2 separate regions of the Homo sapiens genome follow, and region 1 is linked to region 2. Evidence: fine-mapped expression QTL. A gene starts in region 2. The other region holds a variant in brackets. All regions are shown on one strand. Distances are between the middles of the regions.

The links.
Region 1: its variant is fine-mapped to the expression of PBX3 in skeletal muscle (FUSION, PIP 0.95).

The regions. Positions count from the first base shown.
Region 1 is chr9:125,561,303-125,564,316 of GRCh38, reverse strand. The region is part of intron 5 of MAPKAP1 (MAPK associated protein 1); the gene reads left to right. It overlaps LOC105376272 (a long non-coding RNA gene), which reads right to left and starts at 582. Exons shown (of 4, transcript XR_007061777.1): 1 at 1-582. The variant C/G (reference allele first, on the strand shown) is at 1,602.
Region 2 is chr9:125,745,985-125,748,484 of GRCh38, reverse strand. PBX3 (PBX homeobox 3) reads right to left here and starts at 1,112. Exons shown (of 9, transcript NM_006195.6): 1 at 832-1,112. The coding sequence starts at 1,031. RefSeq lists silencers at 138-477, 748-1,277, 1,288-1,337, 1,588-2,017.

The DNA.
Region 1 (3,014 bases), 180 kb after region 2:
TTTCTAGTCTTTTCATGTGTGACAATTGAAAATTTTTACATAGTATCATCATTTCTGTTTTTTCTCCATAAAAAGTGAGATGCCAGTATTCATATCTTGATGGACTATAAAAATTCCCCTTTCATCCTCACCTTTGCCTGTGCTGCCTTCTCCTCTAGTCTTGAATTACAATCTTTGACACATGTGCATTGCCTAGAAAGCCCTATTTGGTTAACAGATATCACTGTGAAAAGCAAGAACACAAAAAGAAGGTTATTACTTTCCCTCTTCTCATTAACACATACCTCACTAATAATACCCTTTGCTGGTTGGGCATGGTGGCTCACGCCTATAATCCCAGCACTTTGGGAGGCCAAGGCGGGTGGATCACGAGGTCAGGAGTTCGAGACCAGCCTGGCCAACATGGCGAAACCCTGTCTCTACTAAAAATACAAAAATTAGCCAGGTGTGGTGGCAGGCACCTATAATCCCACTTGGGAGGCTGAGGCAGGAGAATCGCTTGAAACTGGGAGGCAGAGGTTTCAGTGAGCAGAGATCGTGCCATTGCACTCTAGCCTGGGTGACAAGAGCAAGACTCCATCTCAAAAATAATAATAATAATAATAATAATAATACCCTTTGCTTTCTTCATAGAGTGATTGAGTCTACACATTCATATCTTCATTTATTCAACAAATGTTTGTTAAGTACCTTCTAAATGCCAGTCATTTTACTCTTTAGTAAGTATGGAGAGATAATAGAAGAATCCTTGCTCTTTAGAATACAGATGCAGAAATAGGAAAAAGCAATATGATTAGTGATATACAGAAATATTGACCAAATTTTGTAAGACCACAAAGGAGAATTGCTTGAATTTCGGAGATCCAAGCTATTCTCCTAGAGAAATCAAGGAAAGCTGTTTTTCCGATAAGAAAATGGAGCTCAAAGAGATTTGGTCTAAGAATTTGAGTTAGCATTAAAACCAGTTGTGTCTGCAAAATCCCTGTTCTTTCCACCAAGCTGTGTCATGGGAAGTGCCCCTGTTTCCATTGTGTTGTAAACTCTGAGATGTCTGTATCGGGGGGTTTCCTGAGGCAGGGACCAGAGCTGCCCCCTTTCTTTTCTCTCCCCATTTCAAAGTCCACCAGTTTTTTATTTGTTTAAAGAATAATGGACAAGAAGTGGGGACACCAGAGTTTTCAAGACCAGCTTTGCCTCTGTTTAATTGGGTGATCATGAGCATGTTATCCCTCTTTTCTCTGCCTCCATTTCCCATCTGTAAAAGCAAGGAGGTTGAACTAAATCTAACTTTTTATAAGTAATATGTCATGGTTTCCTTCTTCTCATCAAAGTGTGTCATATTTCCATAGGTGATTGGGTTCTCAAGTGCCTCAGGAAGTCTTGACACACTGTGGCTTTGGCAGAGGAATGGGTGGGGGTCAAGAGGGACAGCTCTTGGCTGCCTGGATTTGAATCTCAGCCCTGTCACTTACATGCTGTTTAATCTTGAGCAAGCTACCTAATCCTATTGAGGCTCAGTTATCTAATTTGTAAAATAGAAATATAAATGATTCATTTACAAAGTTGATGTGAAGTTTCAGTGAGCTTATATATCTAAGCCG[C/G]TTTGCAGAGTGTCTGGCTTATAGTACTCAATAAATGTAGCTAATGATACTGCTGGTATTGTACTAGTACTAATTTGGAGTCCTGAAGCAGTTTTAGAAGTCAAAATATCACAGTAGCTTCTTTTACTAATGATTCCTTTATAAAAGCACCAAAGGAACCAGTATGTCCATGTGTAGAATATAGAATTTTAGTCATTATCTCCTCAGATTTTCAATTAAGGGGTCAGAGGAGTTGGAGCACTATTTACTGCTAGACTTTACTGATGACCCAGAAGAGGCTTCTATTCATCTTGTATAATATGGCAGGAATCAGTCTTCTTTTCCTTCCTCTGTTCCTGATGCTCAGGACAGGCCACAGCCCAGGGGGGCACTTTACAAATGTGTTTTGAATGAATGATTTCACACTTCATATTTAAGAACTGGGGAGAATAATAGCACTTGGCAGTGAACCTTTTGCATCTCAAATCTTAGCCTGTGATATTTATTGAATTTGTTTTGAGAGGATTTGGGGATGTCCCTTAACAATCAAAGCAGAATTCTTCTGATATCATTGTTGGACTTTTCTGCTTTGATCAATAGGCTTATTATTTGCCCCTGAACCTCTGTGATGCTGGAGAATCAAACATTCCTCAGGTTGATTTACATGGCAATAAATAATCTGTGCTGTCTGTTGCTTGTTCCATCCATGTCTGCCCTGTTCATAAAACCCTGGGGGCTCAGTGACCCAAGGTTCCAAGGTTGGAACACAGTGGACATGTTGACTCCCATTACAGTTGTGTGTACATAGAACATGCTGCTCAGATGCATTGTTGCTTAATATGCATCCACAATTTGTGTTTAAGGATTGGTGCAACTATAAGTTAGTTTCCATATGACTTTCTTATTATAGTTACCTTCCCATTTATTTTTTACTTCTGTTACATGCCAGACACTACATATATTATCTGATCTAATCTTTACAATCTCTGAGGGACGATTATACCCTTTTTATAGAAGTGGAAACTGAAACTCGAGGTGAAGCTTATTCTCTGAAATCACATAGCCATGAGCCATGGAGCTGAAATTTGAACTCGTTCTGACCACAGAGCTCTCTTAGCCAGTATACCATGACATTTTCCTCATCCAAAGTGCTTTCTTTTGCCTCTCTAATTGTTCTGTTTTTAAGTTAGTACCCGGCTGCAGAGATCCAAAAGTTTCCCATGCCATTCAAAGATGAATTTTAAATATCTTAACAGCATTACAAATACCTGAAATGTAAAGTGACAAACATAGCTAGATTACTTTCTTGTTATCAATCCATTTAGCAAATTTACAGTTTCCATTAATTTTAATTTGTCCTTATTACTTGTTTTTTATAATAAATATCTCTTAGTCATGACAGACTCACTGAGTATAGATCGCCTGAAGTAGGCT
Region 2 (2,500 bases):
TTAAGTTAGACCCAAGATTTAATTCCAGCCCCCCATTCTGGAAGGCCCTTTTGAACCGTGGGAAGTCAACAAAAACTCCAGTTGACTAGTTCCCGACAGCCAGCAAGCCCCGGCGGCGAAAGCTGCAGCCGGAACAAGGCGGACCCATCTGCCCGGCAGGCAGCAGCCTCGGCCACTGCAGACGCGACGCGAACCCGCGCGGGGAGCCTCGCCCCGGGGGCAGGCGAAGGCGACCCGGGGGAGGGGACGGGTGCGGAGGGGCTCCCGCGTCCGCTCCTGTGCAGAGGAGGCCGGCCGACTGCGGCCAGCGGGAGGGTGACAGCTCGGCAAAGTTTGCAAGGCGGCCCTCCCTCTCCGAGAACTTGGCCGTCCGCACCCGGACCCGCCAGGGAACCGCCCATCGCCCCGCGCCGGGCCCGGGTGGCCGCCCGCATCGCGAGGTCGTCCCGCGGCCGCGGGAGCCGGCGCCGGGACTCCCCGCCGGAGGAGAAAGTTACACTTCCCGGCGGCGCGGCCCGCACGGGGTCGGGGCGGGAGGTTTAAATCCCTGGGAGGGGGCCGGGCTGCGAGGGGCAGGACGGGGGAAAGGACGCCACGGAATCCGCGCCGCACCGAGTCCGTCCCGAGCCCCCCAGAGCAACTTTGCCGACTCCCGCCCGCTTCGGGGGGCGCGGGCAAGTCCCCCCGAGGCCGGGGCGGGCGGCCGGCTTTCGGAGAAAGTTCCCCGCCGGGGGCTGCGGCCCTAGCCCCGGGCGCCACCCCGGGCCTCGACTCGGCCGCGGGCCCGGCTCCCGCACACACACAAAAGATGCTTAATGAGACGACACCAACTTTGCTTGCGCCTCGTCCAAGCTCTGGTCGGTGATGGTCATGATCTGGTGGAGGATGTCGCCGATGTCCTGCTTCCTGCCGTCGCCGTCCGCCCCTTCGTGGCCGTGCGGGGGAGGCGGCAGGGCCATGCCCCCCTGCACCGAGTGGCCAGCCAGGTTCACCCCGGCCAGAGTCTGCAGCATCCTGGATTGATCGTCCATCCCGCCGCGCGCGGGCGGGAGCGGGCGGCGGCTGAGGCGAAGGCTGAGGCGGCGGCGGCGGCGGCGGCGACGAGGGAGGAGAAGAAAGAGGGGGAGGGGGAGGGGGAGGCGGCCGCGCGCTCCCCGCCCGCGCGGGGAGGGGGCGGCCCGGCCGGCAGGGCCCGCGGCTGAGGCGATGAGGACGGGCGCCCGGCTCCGGCTTCCGCCGCCGCCGAGGCTGAGGAGAAGCGGCGGGCGGAAGCGCCGGGCTCCGCGGCGGTGGCGGAGGCGGAGGCGGCGGCGCCCGCTGCCCTCACGCGGCCGCCGCGCCGCCTCCTCGCCGCCGCGCGCCCCGCCGGGCGGCCCCGCGCAACTTGCTCCTCAGCGCCCGCCGAGTTGCCGGGACGCCCGCCGCCCCCCGCGCCAGCCTGCGCACTGCCCTCCTCGGCCGCCGCCGCCGCCTCGGCCAGGCGGGATCCGAGCCCCGGCGGCCCCGGGGGAGGCAGCGGCGGCGGCGGCGGGCGGCGGCGGAGGAGGAGGCCTGCGGGCGGGCCGCGGGGAGCGAGGGGGGGCGGAGGAGGAAAGTTTGGGAGCGGGCGGGCAGAGGCGGCGGGGGCGCTGAGCCCGGAGGAGGGCCCCGGCGGGCCGCGCGCCGGGCGGACAGCCGATGGATAGGGCGGGAGAAGTCGCCGCCGCCGCCGCCGGAGCCGCGCACCCAGCCAGCAGCCGCCGCGGACCGGGCTGGAAGGCCGCTGGGCCGAGGGATTGACAGGCTGCCAGTGCCACTCACTCACTGCGGCCCCGCGCCGGGGGGAGGGACGGGGGCTGGCAAGGGCGGGGGAGCGCTCCTCAGACCCCGCCCCCGGGGCGGTGCGCGCGCTCATTGGGCTCTGCGCCTCCCGCCGCCGCCGCCGGCACCGCCCCCGGGGCCCGGCCCGTTCCCTCTGGCCTCTGATACTCCGCGCTCCGGAGTGTGCCGCCGGATCCTCGCTCCAACCTCGTCGCGTCCTAGCCCCCCGGGATAGACCGGGCCGGCCCACAAACGGTGTGCCCGCACCCCGACTCCTGCTCCATGCTTTTGGCAGTCATGGGAGCGGGGGGTTGTGTATGGGACAGTGGGCAACTCGCTGCAAAGCCAACCGTGTGCTCCCCCGCCGCGCCCGTGAGCTTCACGCCTCGGACAGCTCCTGGTGCACTTTCCCGCTCTTCCTGTCAGGAGGTGGTGCCCTCTGGGTACCAGGCCGCTCGTCCCGGGCCAATCGCAAAGCGCTTAGAGCCGAATGGGGCGGGACAGAGGCAAGAAAGGGTCGTCCCAATTGGAGCGTTCGAAAGGTTCTGGGCAGAGGCGGGGAAGCGGCGAGTGGGGGCCTCGCCCCGCCTGCGGTCGCCATGGTAACCGAGAGGGCGCAGCTCAGCGTTGGCGCCAGCACCGGGGTCTTGTGCTGTCCCTCAATGGGTGACCAGTTAAGGTGGGAACCTGTGGTCTCACA